Linked DNA regions of Homo sapiens. The protein of the gene in region 1 purifies or fractionates together with the protein of each later gene. This does not show direct contact. Each region holds a gene or a part of one and is shown on either strand. Other genes may lie near its edges.

Region 1 (3,500 bases):
CTGGGCGAGAAGAGCAAAACTCCATCTCAAAAAACAAGAGTAAATAGCTAATTTAATTTTATAAAGAAAACTAGGAGATAAACTGATGACCGATATGAACAGAGATTTTTCCAGTAAAGCAATACCGACTCTAAACATACCAAAAATGTTTGCACAGAGTAATTATAGGGGAAAAATGAATTTAAGCTTAAAGCATGCTTGAGGTTTTATGCATACTAGACTAGCAGGAAAAAAGTAGTTGATAGCAATGCTGGCAAGGCAATGATTAAAAGCGTACACAATTGTAGGAATAAAATTGATGCAAGCCTTTTGGAAAACAGGATGGCATGGGAGCCATGTTTTACATATGTAAATTTATTATTGTTTGGATCTAAAGCCATGCATAATCTAGGAAAATTTTAAAATTAAAAATTTCTAAGGAAATTTAAAAATGACAGCATTTCTATGTTATGTTACAATGAATTTCTCCTTAAATTGACACAATTTACATTTTAAGCAAATAAATTCCTATTAGATAAATTTAATAGGAAATTTAAAAATTAAAGGACTTCAGTTCCTTTTAACTAGTAGTCTCACCTCCAAGATTTATCCTAGGGAGATAATTCAGCAGAAGCAAACAGCTAAGCTAAGCTATGATATTAACAAATGCTACTGTTGATTGACTAAGTAATTATGTCAAATAGCGTGCTAGGTACTTGTTATATTTTCTTTTAATTTAACTCATTTAATCCTCACAAAAACCTTATGAGTGAGATACTTTTCAAATGCAGGAAATGGCACATTCATTGCAACACTATACATGGAGGTTAAAAATTATATCCAAGAGGTTGACACATACAACTGTCTGGACCCTTAGAACTGATAACCATGAAAACTGATTGTGGGCGAAAATATATATGTTTAACAGTACAAAATGCTGTGTGTAGTGAAACTGAAAATATGGGCTGGGCTCAGTAGTTCACACCTGTAATCCCAATACTTTGGGAGGCCAAGAAAGGAGCACTTGAGCCCGGGAGTTAAAGACTGCAGTGAGCCATGATCATACTGCTGCCCTCCAGCCTGGGCGACAGAGCAAGACCCTGATTCTGAGTGAATGAATGAATGAATGAATGAATGAATGAATACACATGGACATAGACTTCAAAATAATTTTCAGCAAGGGTACGGTGGGTTACTCCTATAATCCTAGCACTTTGGGAGGCTAAGGCAGGAGGATTGCTTGAGGCCTGAAGTTCAAGACCATCCTGAACAACATAGCAAGACTCCATCTCTACAGAAATAATAATAATTATTTTTCTTCTAGCTAGGAGGAGTGGTGCACACCTTTAGTCCCAGCTACTCAGGAGGTTGAAACAGAAAGATCATCTAAGGCTAGGAGTTCAAGGCCAGTTTGGGCAACATAATGAAAACCGCCTCTTTAAGCAATAATAGGCCGGGCGCGGTGGCTCATGCCTGTGATGCCAGCACTTTGGGAGGCCAAGGTGGGTGGATCATGAGGTCAGGAGTTTGAGACCAGCCTGACCAACATAGTGAAACCCGGTCTCTACTAAAAATACAAAAATTGGCCAGGCATGGTGGTGCGTACCTGTAATCCCAGCTACTCAGGAGGCTGAGGCAGGAGAATCACTTGAACCCGGGAGGCAGAGGTTGCAGTGAGCTGAGATCACGCCATTGCACTCAAGCCTGGGTGACAAGAGCGAAACTCCATCTCAAAAAAGAAAAAAAATAATTTATGCTCATTATGGGAAATTTGAAAAAATATAGCAAAGGAGGAAAATCTCCCATTTTACCATCAACCCAAAAGTAGGTAGAATAGAACTGGTTTATTTCCTTCTGAGTACAAAATTCTGTATCTGTCATTTTTCTGTATTGCTAGTCTTGTACCTTTTTTTGAGACAGCGTCTCGCTCTGTTGCCCAGGCTGGAGTGCAGTGGCATGATCACGGCTCGGTGCAGCCTCCACCTGGGCTCATGTGATCCTCCTGCCTCAGCCTCTCAAGTAGCTGGAGCCACAGGCCTGCGCTACCACACCCAGCTAATTTTTGTATTTTTTGTAGAGACGGTTTTGCCATGTTGCCCAGGCTGGTCTCAAACTCCTGGGCTCAAACATTCCTCCGACCTTGGCTTCCCAAAGTGCTGTGATTACAGGCATGAGCCACTGTGCCCAGCAATCTTATATTTTAATGGCTGCATAATTTGACTGAGTGGAGGGACTTAGGGGTTGGAGCCAGAACTTTTGTCATAGGTAACTTTAAGTTTGCTCAAGGTTCTGCAGAAAAACTGGCATCTCTAGCTTCTTTTTGACTTTGGAGCAAGGAAGAATTCCTTAGTCTGTAAATTATAGCATTGGTCTCCCCTTGTCTGCCTTGGCCATGGGATCTTCCCCATTTTCCTGCGTGGTGTCTGCTTGGAGCTGTGCAGTGTCCTGTGATGAACCTATCAAGAGGAGCCATCTGCAGCATGTCCCTGTGGTTAATAAACTGACCCATGCTACCAGGCCCCTGGATAATACAGCCTGTCAGCACTGGAGCACATCTTACCTGGGCCATTTCTATTCTGGGGCATTGCATTTCAAACTGTTCTTTCCAGTAGAAAGACTATAGGTGAGCCCATTCCCAATTTGTGGTTAAAAGTAGGATGTCAATATATGGCAAGCCAAATGATGGGCAATGGTAGAGGTCACCAGGAAACACCTGTTGGCTTCTACAGGAGGCCACACAAAATAGAGACTCATTTCAGGTTCAGCCATAGGGGTGCTACGGTGGACCTACTGATCCCCAAAGAGAGAACATTGTATAATACCAAAGGATCTCAGAAGACCTATAGAAGCAGGTCTGACTCAGAGCTTGGGGTCAAGACTGGCCAGGTCTTCTGTCTTTCCCCTCTCCTTAGGCCAGTCTTCCCATATTTTTTTTCTTTCATTGTTTTGAGATAAGTCTTAATCTGTCACCCAGGATAGAGTACAGTGGCATGATCACGGCTCACTGCAGCCTCAACCTCCTGAGTACCTGGGACTACAGGTGCACACCACCACACCCAGCTAATTTTTGTATTTCTTTGTAGAGACGGGGGTTTTGCCATGTGGGCCAGGCTGGTCTTGAGCTTCTGGGCTCAAGCAAGCTGTCCACCTTGGCTTCCCGAAGCATTGGGATTATAGGTGTGAGAGCCAAGCACAAAAGAGCAGGAGCCTATCTTGTACGTTTCTATCTTAAAGTAAGAACTACACATTAATTTTACAGAGATTCTTGATTTTTTAATGTAATAATTAATTAAAAGACTAGGAATTCATGGGGATAAGAATCTTGACCACAACACTATGGAACTGTAGCTGAGCAAGGTGGCTCACACCTGTAATCCCAGCACTTTGGGAGGCTGGGGCGGGCAGATTACTTGAGGTCAGGAGATCAAAACCATCCTGGCTAACACAGTGAAACCCCATCTCTACTAAGAATACAAAAAATTAGCCAGGCATGGTGGCACGCACCTGTAGTCCCAGCTACT
Region 2 (3,500 bases), on another chromosome or scaffold:
AGCCATCCCATTACTGGGTATATGCCCAAAGGATTATAAATCATGCTGCTATAAAGACACATGCACACGTATGTTCACTGTGGCACTATTCACAATAGCAAAGACTTGGAACCAACCCAAATGTCCAACAATGATAGACTGGATTAAGAAAATGTGGCACATATACACCATGGAATACTATGCAGCCATAAAAAATGATGAGTTCATGTCCTTTGTAGGGACATGGATGAAGCTGGAAACCATCACTCTCAGCAAACTATTGCAAGGACAAAAAACCAAACACCGCATGTTCTCACTCATAGGTGGGGAATTGAACAATGAGAACACACGGACACAGGAAGGCGAACATCACACACCGGGGCCTGTTGTGGGGTGGGGGGAGGGGGGAGGGACAGCATTAGGAGATATATCTAATATAAATGACGAGTTAATGGGTGCAGCACACCAACATGGCGCGTGTATACGTATGTAACAAACCTGCACGTTGTGCACATGTACCCTAAAACTTAAAGCATAATAATAAAAAAAAAAAGAAAATCTAGACATTCCTATCAATGTCTAGATTGTAACATTTTTGAAAGCAAACAAAAAAAAAAGAAAAACACTATTTTGTAGCTTTAAAGTGCATTTCTTTTATTATGAGTTAAGATTCAATATTTTTCATATGTTTAAATTAAAGGTCACCTGTATTTCCTTTTCTGTGGACTATGTTCATAGTTCTGAACATTTTAAAATTAATTGGCTAGTATTATCATTTTCATATTGACTTAAAGGAACACTTTATGTATTAGAGAAGTCAGCTCTTTTTCATTTAGATTGCAAATATAACACTTTTTCCAGATTTGCTTTTGACTTTATTTATGGAGTTTTTCTTTCCCGTGCAGAAATGCTTAATTTTTGCATAATCAAATTCATCAGTCTTCCCTTTATAGCTTCTGGTTTCAAGTCATGCATAGAAAGGCCTTTCCTATTCAAATTATAAAAGGTTCTTGGTTTTTTTTCAAATTGTATAGTTTCAATTTTTATGTTCAAATATTTGATCCAATTGGAATTTATTTTGGTATAGGTATTAGGGAATCAACTTCAATTTTTCAGATGACTTCAGACTTGTCCCATCATCACTTACTAAGTAATCCATTTTTTTCATTCTAATTTGAAATGCCACATTTTACTGCATTCTTACATAAACAGGGTGTATTTCTGGACTTTGTATATTGTGCCACTATTCTATTAAGAGTCCATTTACATAAAGAAAGGAAACAACATTTTCTGGTTCAACATTACCAATTTCATGCCCAATTCATGGGCTCGGTACTGGGGATCAGATGGAGGAGGCAGCCTGTATCCACTCCGCCGGTCTGGCACAAACCTTTGTTGCACCAATTGTGCATATAGACATTTAGTGAATGTGACCTGGGCATCAAGACACAAAATACATGAGTCTTTTCCTGAAATTAAGATTGTGAATAACACTTCACAGTTAAATATAATGAGAAGTCCATTTATAAGCTTCATATTCATATGAAATGCAAAGAAGATTCAACCTATTCATTGCCTACTTGTTTTTAGTAACAGCTTTATTGAGATACAACTCACATACCATAAAATTTACCCTACTGCTGGCCAGGCATGGTGGTTCATGCCTGTAATCCCAACACTTTGGGAGGCCAAGGTGGGCAGATCATCTGAGGTCAGGAGTTTGAGACCAGCCTGGCCAACATGGTGAAACCCCATCTCTACTAAAAATACAAAAATAAGCCAGGCATGGTGGCGCACGCCTCTAATCCCAGCTACTCGGGAGGCTGAAGCAGGAGAATTGCTTGAACCCGGGAGGTGGAGGAAGTTGCAGTGAGCTGAGATTGCTCCACTGCACTCCGGCCTGGGCAACAGAGCAAGACACTGTTGCAAAAAAAATTTTACCCTACTGCCTACTTTTTAGTAATCGCTAGTAAAATTCTTATCATTAGTTACATTATACAGCAATTAAATGGCTGGAAGATAAAGATAATTCATTTTTTCTATTTCTGAGACAGGGTCTTGCTCTGTTGCAGAGACTGGAGTGCAGTGAGCAATCATGGCTCACTGAAGCCTCAGGGATAGGGTTTCACCATGCTGGCCAGGCTGGTCTCAAACTCCTGACCTCAGGTGATCTGCCCACCTTGGCCTCCCAAACCTCCTGGGGTCAAGCAATCCTCCTACCTCAGCCTCCGAAGTAGCGGGGATTACAGGCGCCCACCACCACACCTAGCTAATTTTTTTATTTTTTGTAGCGATGGGGTTCACCATGTTGCCCAGTCTGGTCTCAAACACGTGGGTTCAAGTGATCCACCTGCCTTGGCCACCCAAAGTGCTGGGATTACAGGTGTGAGCCACCATGCCCGGCCAAGAATAATTCTTAATTCTCTGGAAGAGATGAAATGTTTTATTGTTAAGAAGGAAATAATTAGGCTGGGTGCGGTGGCTCACACCTGTAATCCCAGCACTTTGGGAGGCTGAGGTGGGTGAATCACTTGAGGTCAGGAGTTCGAGACCAGTCTGGCCAACATGGCGAAACACCATCTAAAAATAAAAAAATCAGCTGGGCGTGTTGGGAGGTGACTGTAATCCCAGCTACTCGGGAGGCAGGAGAATCGCTTGAGCCCAGGAAGCAGAGGTTGCAGTGAGCTGAGATGGCTCCACTACACTCCAGCCTGGGTGAGAGAGTGAGACTCTGTCTCAAAAAAAAAAAAAAAAAAAAAAAAGGAAATAATTATAGAAATAGAAACATATGGTCAAAAATAGCTATAAAACATTGAGTATAAAATGGGGAGGCAGGTCTCTTGAAAATTTCCTTCACTGGGTGCAAGAAAAGAAAAAACGTGTATAGTTTGAGCATCCCAAATGTAAATATCTGAAATCTAAAATGTTCCAAAATCCAAAACTTTTTGAGTCCCAACGATATGCTCAAAGTTTTGAGATTTCAGAATTTTCAGATTTGGGATGCTCAAGTAGTAAGTTTAATGCAAATATTCCAAAATCCAAATAAATCTGAAATCTGAAATACTTCTAGTCCCAAGCATTTCAGATAAGGAATATTCAATCTATATTAACATGCTATGAAGAAACAGAATATTTCCTTTTTTTTCTAGAGAACAATTAAAATAATGTTTCATTCACTGAGCACTGAGAAATGTAAAAAGAAAAAAATAATAATGTTTCAACTCGGTTTCCAGTAAGAGAAACTAAATGACCAAGATAGAAATCTCACCGATGTCATTATTCGTGTTTCAGGCAAGAATGTCTTGAAAACACGACAAGCTCGCAGGTCAATAGGGTCTCGTAGGTAAAATGCCTGGACTGCTGCAGCCACCAATCTGGGGCGCTGCTTTAGCACTGCCACAATGCCAGCTGGAAGGAAGCAGTGTGCTCGATGAAGTGAGGCCTGAATTTTTTCTGGGTACCTGGGACAGGTAACATAATTACTTTCATTTTACAGTATATAAATACCTATAATTCTTATA
Region 3 (3,500 bases), on another chromosome or scaffold:
ACATATAAGGGTGAAATGATGACCAACACCTCCTTGCTTGTTAGTCATGTCTGTAAAAGAAATGGTTCAATATCTCAAGTTGTCTTGCCATTTACCTGCTTTTAATGTCTGTTTTGCAGATTGGGATCAAAGCCACTCACATTAAGTTACCAAGAACAACCACAGAATCTGAGGTGAGCTTTTATGAGTTGATTGTGAAGAGGGAAGGTGAAGTGGTTTCCTCTCTGGTTTTGGTTTACGGGGGCTTTGGGGACTGACACATTTAGCCAAGACCTCCAGGTATTTTTTTTTTTTTTTTTTTTGAGACACAGTTTTGCTCATGTCACCCAGGCTGGAGAGCAATGATGCGATCTCGACTCTCTGCAACCTCCGCCTCCCAGGTTCAAGCAATTCTCCTGCCTCAGCCTCCCGAGTAGCTGGGATTACAGGCGCCCACCGCCTCACCTGGCTAATTTTTATATTTTTAATAGAGACGCGGTTTCACCACGTTGGCCAGGCTGGTCTTGAACTCCTGACCTGAGGTGATTTACCCGCCTTGGCCTCCCAAAGTGCTGGGATTACAGGCGTGAGCCACCACGCCTGGCACCTCCAGGTATTCTTTCTTCACAGACTCCCACAGAGGAGATGGTGCAGGGATGAACATTTGGTACTCAAAGTGTGACTGCAGTACTGTTTGCTTCCAAATCATCTGTTGTGTTTGTTAAAACTGATCCTTGGAGCCAGGCACGGTGGCTCATGCCTGTAATCCCAGCATTTTGGGAGGCCGAGGTGGGCAGATCACCTGAGGTCGGGAGTTCGAGACCAGCCTGGCCAACATGGAGAAACCCTGTCTCTACTAAAAAATACAAAATTTGCCAGGCGTGGTGGCGCATGCCTGTAATCCCAGCTACTTGGAAGGTTGAGGCAGGAGAATCACTTGAACCCGGGAGGCGGAGGTTGCAGTGAGCCAAGATCGTACCATTGCACTCCAACCTGGGAAAAAAGAGCAAAACTCCGTCTCAAAAAAATAGGTAAAACCGATCCTTGGCCTGTAATTATCTGCATTCTAAAAACCAAATATGTATTCCTTTTATATGAGGTTCAGGACTAGGCAGAACAAATCAGCGGTGATTAAAGTCAGAACTGTGGTTGCCTGTAGGTGGGAGATTAATGCTAAACTGTAGGAGGATAAAGCAACTTTCTTGAGGTTATGGCAATGTTCCATATATGCGCTGTCCAGTATGGGAGCCACTAGCCCCATGAGGCTATTTGAATTTAGTTAAAATGAAATAAAATTAAAAATTCACTTCCTTGGTTGTACTAGCCACTTTGCAAGGATTAAGTAGCTGCTATTGTATTGTAAGGTGCAAATTATAGAAAATTTCTGCCATCGCAGAAAAGATGATTGGACATTGCTGCTCTACATCTTGATTTGGATGATTGTAACATGGGTATTATTGCTGTAATAAGTTATTAGAGTTCTTAGCTCTTTTTATTTTATTGTATTGTATTTTTAGAGACAGGGTCTCACTCTTTTGCCTCAGCTGCAGCACAGTGGTGTGATCATAGCTCATTGTAGCCTCAACCTCCTAAGCTCAAGTGATCCTCCCACCTTAGCCTCTTGAGCAGCTGGGACTATAGGCATGAGCCACCATGCCCAGCTAATTTTATTTTATTTTTGAGGCAGAGTTTTACTCTTGTCGCCCAGGCTAGAGTGCAGTGGTGCAATATTGGCTCACTGCAACCTCCACCTCCCAGGTTCAAGCGATTCTCATGCCTCAGCCTCCTGAGTAGCTGTGACTACAGGCATGCGCCACCACGCCCAGCTAATTTTTGTATTTTTAATTGCCCATATTGCCCAGGCTGGTCTCAAACTACTGACCTCAAGTGATCTGCCCACTCAAGCCTCCCAAAGTGCTGGGATTACAGGCGTGAGCCACCGCACCTGTCCCCGCTTTTTTTTTTTTTTTTTTTTTTTTGAGACAGAGTCTTGCTCTGTTGCCCAGGCTGGATGCAGTGGCATGATCTCAGCTCACTGCAGCCTCCGCTTCCTGGGTTCAAGCGATTCTCATGCCTCAGCCTCCTGAGAGGCTGAGATTACAGGCATGCGCCACTATGCCCGGCTTATTTTTTATATTTTTGTAGAGACAGGGTTTCACCATGTTGGCCAGGCTGGTTTCAAACTCCTGGCTTCAAGTGATCCAGTAGCTGCTATTGTATTGTAAGGTGCAAATTATAGAAAATAATTTTCTATATTTTGGGAGGCCTGCCTTGGCTTCCCAAAGTGCTGGGATGACAGGTGTGAGCCACCACACCCAGCCCTAATTTTTTTTTTTTTTTTTTGAGGTGGAGTTTCACTATTGTTGCCCAGGCTGGAGTGCAATGGCACAATCTCAACTCACTGCTGGAGTGCAGTGGCACTATCTCAGCGGACTGCAACCTCCACCTCCCAGGTTCAAGCAATTCTCCTGCCTCAGCCTCCCGAGTAGCTAGGATTACAGGCATGTGCCACCACACCTGGCTAATTTTGTATTTTTAGTAGAGACAGGGTTTCACTATGTTGGCCCAGCTGGTCTCAAACTCCCAACCTCAGGTGATCCACCCACCTCAGCCTCCCAAAGTGCTGGAATTACAGTCGTGAACCACCGCACCCAGCCCCTGGCCCTAATTTTTAAAAAGTTTTTGTAGATATCACATTTCACTGTGTTGTCCAGGCTGGTCTTGAACTCCTGGGTTCAAGTAATCCTCCTGACTTGGCCTCCCAAAGTGCTGGGATTACAGGCATGAGACACCTCGCCCAGCCTCTTAGCTCTTTTATTTGATGGACTTCTTACCAGACACCTAGGGGATGCATTCTATGTTAAAGTACAGGTGCTCTCAGGATTCAAGGGGAAGGTACATTCTGAAAGGACTATAATTAAAGTGTTGGGGGGAAATAGGGCAACCTAATTTTTGCCTTAGAAAGTGTTTCTTCCTACCTTTTGATTTCTGTGTGATATACAAATTATATATGGTATTACTTTTAGGTGATGAAGTACATTACATCTTTGAATGAAGACTCTACTGTACATGGGTTCTTAGTGCAGCTACCTTTAGATTCAGAGAATTCCATTAACACTGAAGAAGTGATCAATGCTATTGCACCCGAGAAGGATGTGGATGGGTAAGTGTGGCTTGGCTTCCTATGTCTCATTGCATGCTTTCATTTATAATATGTTTCTATTTGGGGAATACAGCATAAATGTTTCTAAAGAGTAAAGACATCTAATTGCCTTTATTTCCTTCTTATTTCCATCACTTTTTTAAGATTGACTAGCATCAATGCTGGGAAACTTGCTAGAGGTGACCTCAATGACTGTTTCATTCCTTGTACGCCTAAGGGATGCTTGGAACTCATCAAAGAGACAGGTAAAAACAACAAACCAAACAACAAGAAAGCACCATTTCCTGAATCCTGGTCTTGACATGTGGTGGCATAGAGGAGGTACATTGTGGGCCATAAATAAATGGACTTGATTGGC

The links. The genes of interacting proteins can lie anywhere in the genome.
Region 2: the proteins of SLC7A6OS (region 1) and ECD purify together in Homo sapiens (affinity purification with mass spectrometry, with the first as the bait; one large-scale study listed by BioGRID). This does not show direct contact.
Region 3: the proteins of SLC7A6OS (region 1) and MTHFD1 purify together in Homo sapiens (affinity purification with mass spectrometry, with the first as the bait; one large-scale study listed by BioGRID). This does not show direct contact.

Annotation. Positions count from the first base shown.
Region 1 is NC_000016.10:68,304,447-68,307,946, reverse strand, and holds part of SLC7A6OS (probable RNA polymerase II nuclear localization protein SLC7A6OS), read left to right. Parts: intron 1-3,500. UniProt on the Homo sapiens protein: Directs RNA polymerase II nuclear import.
Region 2 is NC_000010.11:73,151,009-73,154,508, forward strand, and holds part of ECD (protein ecdysoneless homolog), read right to left. Parts: intron 3,441-3,500; coding exon 3,248-3,440; intron 1,414-3,247; coding exon 1,285-1,413; intron 698-1,284; exon of another isoform or gene 1-697. UniProt on the Homo sapiens protein: Regulator of p53/TP53 stability and function. Inhibits MDM2-mediated degradation of p53/TP53 possibly by cooperating in part with TXNIP. May be involved transcriptional regulation. In vitro has intrinsic transactivation activity enhanced by EP300.
Region 3 is NC_000014.9:64,412,353-64,415,852, forward strand, and holds part of MTHFD1 (C-1-tetrahydrofolate synthase, cytoplasmic), read left to right. Parts: intron 1-119; coding exon 120-173; intron 174-3,005; coding exon 3,006-3,142; intron 3,143-3,286; coding exon 3,287-3,387; intron 3,388-3,500. UniProt on the Homo sapiens protein: Trifunctional enzyme that catalyzes the interconversion of three forms of one-carbon-substituted tetrahydrofolate: (6R)-5,10-methylene-5,6,7,8-tetrahydrofolate, 5,10-methenyltetrahydrofolate and (6S)-10-formyltetrahydrofolate.